Regions from separate parts of the Homo sapiens genome. Here region 1 is linked to region 2. Evidence: fine-mapped QTL for protein levels in blood plasma. Region 2 holds a variant in brackets. A gene starts in the other region. All regions are shown on their reverse strands.

What was found. PIP is the posterior inclusion probability: the model's chance that the variant is causal. The UK Biobank Pharma Proteomics Project read protein levels with antibody pairs (Olink). The fine-mapping took linkage between variants from a reference panel, not from the people measured, so its PIPs are less certain.
Region 1: it holds the start of CTSL, and the variant in region 2 is fine-mapped to the plasma level of the CTSL protein (UK Biobank, PIP above 0.99).

Annotation. Positions count from the first base shown.
Region 1 is chr9:87,724,558-87,727,473 of GRCh38, reverse strand. CTSL (cathepsin L) reads right to left here and starts at 1,355. Exons shown (of 8, transcript NM_001912.5): 1 at 1,076-1,355. RefSeq lists promoters at 38-458, 38-1,077, 1,282-1,492, 1,331-1,512, 1-1,512 and 7 more, cis regulatory regions at 459-692, 693-838, 1,414-1,415, 1,438-1,441, 1,452-1,455 and 12 more and an enhancer at 1,043-1,564.
Region 2 is chr12:40,219,387-40,222,302 of GRCh38, reverse strand. All of the region lies in intron 1 of LRRK2-DT (LRRK2 divergent transcript), which reads left to right. Among named protein-coding and RNA genes, the nearest start is that of LRRK2-DT, 3.0 kb to the left of the region's middle. The variant G/A (reference allele first, on the strand shown) is at 1,671.

The DNA.
Region 1 (2,916 bases), not on the chromosome of region 2:
TTTACCCAAGGACTGTGGAAGAGGCCAAGGATGTGCCTGGAGAAAAACAGGGCACGTGGAGGTACTGGATGGACTCACCAAAATGAAAAGCAGCCTGTCCAGAGCTGTAGGAGCTGAAACAGTTTATGCGATGACAATTTAGGTTATGAGAACGGTATGAAACTACCTTGTGTGTGAGAAGCTTAAGGCAACAACTAGGAAACCGGGAAACGGTTGATCCAGGTTTTGTACCAATCGCAAAAAATCCAGGTTTCGTGCCCAGGCAAAACCTCACTAATGATAAGGTGGGATTCCCAAGTAGGGACAAAGAGATCCCCAAGAGTTAGGAGGCCTTCACACATCTTCCTGACTAACAAACACCAAAAGCTGAGATAAGTTTTCCAATCTCTCCTATTTATTTATTTATTTATTTATTTATTTATTTATTTATTTTTTGAGATGGAGTCTTGCTCTGTGGCCCAGGCTGGAGTTCAACGGCGCGATATCGGCTCACAGCAACCTCTGCCTCCCGGGTTCAAGCCATTCTTCCTCAGCCTCTTGAATAGCTGGAACTACAGGCGTGCGCCGCCTCGCCCGTCTAATTTTGTATTTTCAGTAGAGACGGGGTTTCACCATGTTGGCCAGGCTGGTCTCGAACTACTGACCTCAGGTGATCCGCCCACCTCAGCCTCCCAAAGTGCTGGGATTACAGGAGTGAGCCACCGCGCCGCCCCAACCTCTCCTTAAATGAAACCTTTCTGAAATGCTTTCCCAGGAAAAACTGGGAAGGAGAGCACGCACTGCTCCCTCCTTCATTCACTTGGGCCTGTGCTGCCGACACCCCAAACTGCTCCCCTAAATCAGGGACGGGGTCATATGGCCGCACGCGGGAAGCCAGCGCCCTGCAGCCAGCTTCCAGGGCTCCAGGCGTGGCAGGGCCGGGGACATGACGCCTGCGCCACACACTGGCTGTAGCGGTCAGAGGATGTTTGCGGTGACGCCAGCAGGAGTACCGCTGTCTGGCGTGCGGGGACTGAGCTTCCCTGTCTGGCCGGGCCAGGCCCTGAGTCGGCGCGGCGCGGCCTGGCTGCGGTACCTGTGTCCACCCGGCTCGGAGGCTGGCCTGCCCGCTCAACCAGTCACGCGCCTCCGCGGGGTCCTCAACTGCCCTCCCCGGCTTCCCCACCTCAAGGCCAGCAGAGTTCGGGGTAGACGCTCTCGTTGCCAGGGCTGGTGCACACCTACTCGACCGCGTCCTCTCTTCCAGTCCCTGTCCGGCCACAGCTGGGCCTGGCCGGCGGCGCTTTCCTGCTGCGGTCGTAGCTGCGCAGGCGCACTCCACGGATGCCGCTCAAGGTTGCGGAGGTCGCGGTTCTGGCCCAGCTTCGCCTGACTCTGCTTCTAAAACCTCGGGTCTGGGTTCGGCCGGCACCGCCCCGCCGCCTGGCTGCGCTGCGATTGGCTGTGCCGGCAGCTGGGCGGGGACTCTGGGTGCTCTGATCCCTGGCGCGGTTCGTGGCTTGTTTACTGACTGTCCCAGAGCTGGGCGTGCCTGCCTCAGTGGACCTGGAGGAAGCAGAGCTGGTGCCCCGGGGCGGCGCAGAGTAGGGTCGGGCGTCTCCCTGGAGCGCTCGAGTCAACTAAGTACACGACTTACTGCACTGGGCGAGTGGCTCCTGAAAAGACGTTTACCGCAAGCCCTGTGTGGACTGTTTCAGCCTAACCTTGCTATTCCTTAGTCCTGGAATTTTTGGTCCGCAGAGCCGAGAGTCAAGTGTACTCTAGTCCAGTGGCTCCTGTTTAGTCCACAGCAAACGTGGGGCCGGGTGGACGAACGCAGAGCCCGCGGGCAGAAGCCTTATCTCCCACTTAAGGGTGGGTGCAGCTGGGCTTTAGAAGAATCTGGTAAGGAAAGGCATCCCCAAAACACGAGATGCTATCGTCAAGACCAGACCCTAGGAGGGAGGAGACTGGCTGCGTCTCCAGAGAGCGCGGGCGTTTTGTCAAGCATCCTTTCCAGACTCCTCCATTCAGGGATTCTTCCTTCTCCCACGTCTTACCCAAAACCAACAGAAATGAGTTATTTACAGAAACATTTGGTTGACAGGAGAAAAGCAGTTGAGAACATTAGAAGCTGCTTTTATTCGCCCACTCTCTAGGCTATGGATTATATCTTCCTTGGTAACCAAGTCGTTCTCTTGAGATTTAAGAAATTTAATGACATTTAATGTCAGGATTTAAGATACAGAGAATGGAGAAATGTTGTAGATAGAGGAAAAATATGTATCTTAATCTGTATAATGTAGATATTAATTTATGTAATTAAGGATTTAAGGAACAAAACCCACAAACATTCTAAACTTTTGTCATTTCATTTTTTATTACATAAAAACATTCATTGTAGAAAATACCTTTCGGGGAAAAAAATAATTACCTCTGCCTTTACCCCATAACCTTTTCGTATGCATATTTTGACTTTGTTAAAAATGAACAAAGTCCATTGATTTCTATTGAAGATTAAACTGATAACTCTTTTAGAAGCACAATCACCTATAGTTTTTTAAGTGGTAAAATATACCTCACATAGCAAGTACCATTTTAACCAACTTTGAGTTCAGTAGCATTAAGTACCTTCACATTGTGTAACCATTACTACTGTTTATTCCCAGAGCTTGTTTATCTTCCTAAACTGAAACTGTATCCATTGAATAATAGTTCCCCATTCCCCCTCTCCTAGCTCAGGTATCTACCATTATATTTCCTGTCTGCAGGAATTTGTTTACTATTTTGGAGATTATTCCTCTTTTTTTTTTTTTGAGACGGAGTCTGGCTCTGTTGTTCAGGCTGGAGTGCAGTGGCGCAATCGCAGCTCACTGCAATGTCTGCCTCCTGGGTTCAAGTGATTCCTCTGCCTCAGCCTCCAGAGGAGCTGGGACT
Region 2 (2,916 bases):
CAAGCATAAAGTGCAATTGTGTGTGTGTGTGTGTATGATGACAATGAAAGGGAAACCTTGAAAATAAATTAACAAATATTTACAAAACCTTTATGAATAAATTATTGAACTCTGTTAAAAGGCATTAAAAAGGCATGAATAAATATTAATATCACATTAATTAATGGGAAAACTAAATTCAAAAATATGTCAATTCTCTACAAAGTAATAAAAAACAATGCAAGATTAGTGAAATTCTCAACAAGATTTACATAGATTTCAGCAAGATCAAAAGGCCTAGTATAGACTAGACACTTTTGAAGAAGGACAAGATGGGAGAATTGCCATCTTGTCCTTTTGGATGTCCAATTGACATCCATTCAGAGTATGTAGTAGCCTTTCTCTATCAATTTCTGAAGAAGGAAAAAGTACCCCTAGGATGAAAGCGGGGAGCCCTGAAAGCACATAGTTTACCCAGCAGGCAGTCTTTCTATGAATTAGAAAAAAGTGCCTTTTAGGTAGGCACAGCCTTATATCTGGGTGTATCAAGCAGGATTTGGATTTCAGTCTCTACCCTGGTGTTCTTATGGAGGACACAACTTATACAGTATAGGAAGCATTATACTTTTTTGAAGCTATAGAAATTAATTGGCATGTTATTGACACAGCTATACAAAGTGACCAATGAGAGTATAGAAAACCCAGAAACACATCTTCACATATATGGAAATGATATATGAGAGATGTTGCATTATGTATCAGTGGAAAAAAAAAGGGCAATTTGATAAATGAATCTGAGACCACTGTTTGTGGAAAAAGCATCAAATGATTATGCCTACCTCACACCATATTCAAAAATAAATTCCACATGGATTGAACATTTTTGTATAAAAAATGAAAACAGGCCAGGTGCAGTGGCTCATGACTGTAATCCCAGCACTTTGGGAGGCCCAGGTGGGATGATCACTTGAGCTCAGGAGTTCGAGACCAGCCTGGCCAACATGGTGAAACCCCGTCTCCACTAAAAATACAAAAATTAGCCAGGTGTGGTGGCACGTGCATGTAATCCGAGCTACTGGGGAGACCGAGCCAGGAGAATTGCTTGAACCCAGGAGGCAGAGATTGCAGTGAGCCAAGATCGCACCATTGCACTCCAGCCTGAGTGAAGAAGTGAGACTGTCTCAAAAAAAAAAAAAAATTTGAAAAAAATATAGAAAACTATCTGACATTAAGAGGGAAAGAAACAAAACAAAAATTACAGTTAAGGCCAGGTATGGTGGCTCACACCTGTAATCCAAGCACTTTGGGAAGCCGAGGTGGGAGGCTTACTTGAGGCCAAGAGTTAAGACGATCCTGGGAAACATAGAGAGACCTTGTCTCTACAAAATATTTAAAAATTAGCCAGGTATGGTAGTGCATGCCAGTAGTCCTAACTTCTCAGGAAGCTTGAGGCAAGGGGATCACTTGATTCCAGGAGTTATAGGTTACACTGAGCTACAATTGTGACACTGCACTCCAGCTTGAGGGACAGAGCAAGGCCCTGTCTCTAAACTAAAAAAAAATAAAATAAAATCACAGTTCATATAGGAAAAAATTATTAAATTTACAGACATTAAAATCTAACACTATACAAAAGACTCCATCAACAAAGTTAAAAGATGACCATAGGCTGGAAGATTTTGGGAAAGCGT[G/A]TAACAATTAAAAATTAATAAGAAGAATATATAAAAGGTACTATCACAAATTATAAATGAAAAGATAAGTATCCTAGTTTTTATATATATAAGTTTAAAAAATATGGCCAGGCACGGTGGCTCATGCCTTAATACCAGCACTTTAGGAGGCCAAGGTGGGTGGATCACTTGAGGCCAGGAGTTTGAGACCAGCCTGACCAACATGGTGAAACCCTGTCTTACTAAAAATATAAAAATTAGCCAGTTGTGGTGGTGCATGCCTGTAATCACAGCTACTTGGGAGGTTGAGGCAGGAGAATTGCTTGAACCCAGGAGGTACAGGTTGCAGTGAGCCAAGATGGCACCACTGCACTCCAACCTGGGCCACAGGGCGAGAATATGTCTAAAAATATATATATTATATATATATGTGTACATATATGTACATATATATGTACATTATATATATGTACATTATATATATGTACATTATATATATGGCAATATGTAGAAGAGGAAAGGCCAGTAAACTTCATGAACCTATCCAAAGATGCTCAATTACACAAGTAATCAAGGAAATAAAAATTAAAGCCATAATGAGATACCATTTCACAACCATCTCATTAACCACAAACTTAAAGTTGGATAATACCAGTAACTACTGGCTGGGATGTGGAACAACTAGAATACTTTTTGTAGTACTGGTAAGAGTGTAAATCAGAGCAAGCACCTTGGAGAGCACATGGCAAAATCTAGGAAAGCTGATGTGTCTATCCTATGACCTGACATTTTCACTCTAAGGCTGTTTCTTAAAGAAATTCTCAAATGTACATAAGGACATTTATGTAAGAATCTTCAGTGTATCATTTTTTGCTTATAATGAAACTGTAGACCATATGAATATCTATCAACACTTAAAGTGAATATATTCATATAATGAACTTTTATAAATCTGTGAAAACTATTAAACTAGAGCTCCATATATTAGTGGCTAAAGAGCAAAAAATTGTAATACTGGACTTTTTACAAGTTGCAGAGGATACTTATAGCATGATATCAGTGCTCCAATGCTATAAAATATGCAAGGTTTCATATACTTTAGGGATATATATGTATGTATAAAAGTATAAAAATTATACTTGGGAATAATATTTACCAAATTCTAGCTAGTGGTTATCTCTGGGGAGAAGAAAGTAGAAATGCATCCAGGAAGGATATTTTACAGGCTACAAGTGTATCTGTAACTTTCTTCTTCTTTAAGCTTGTC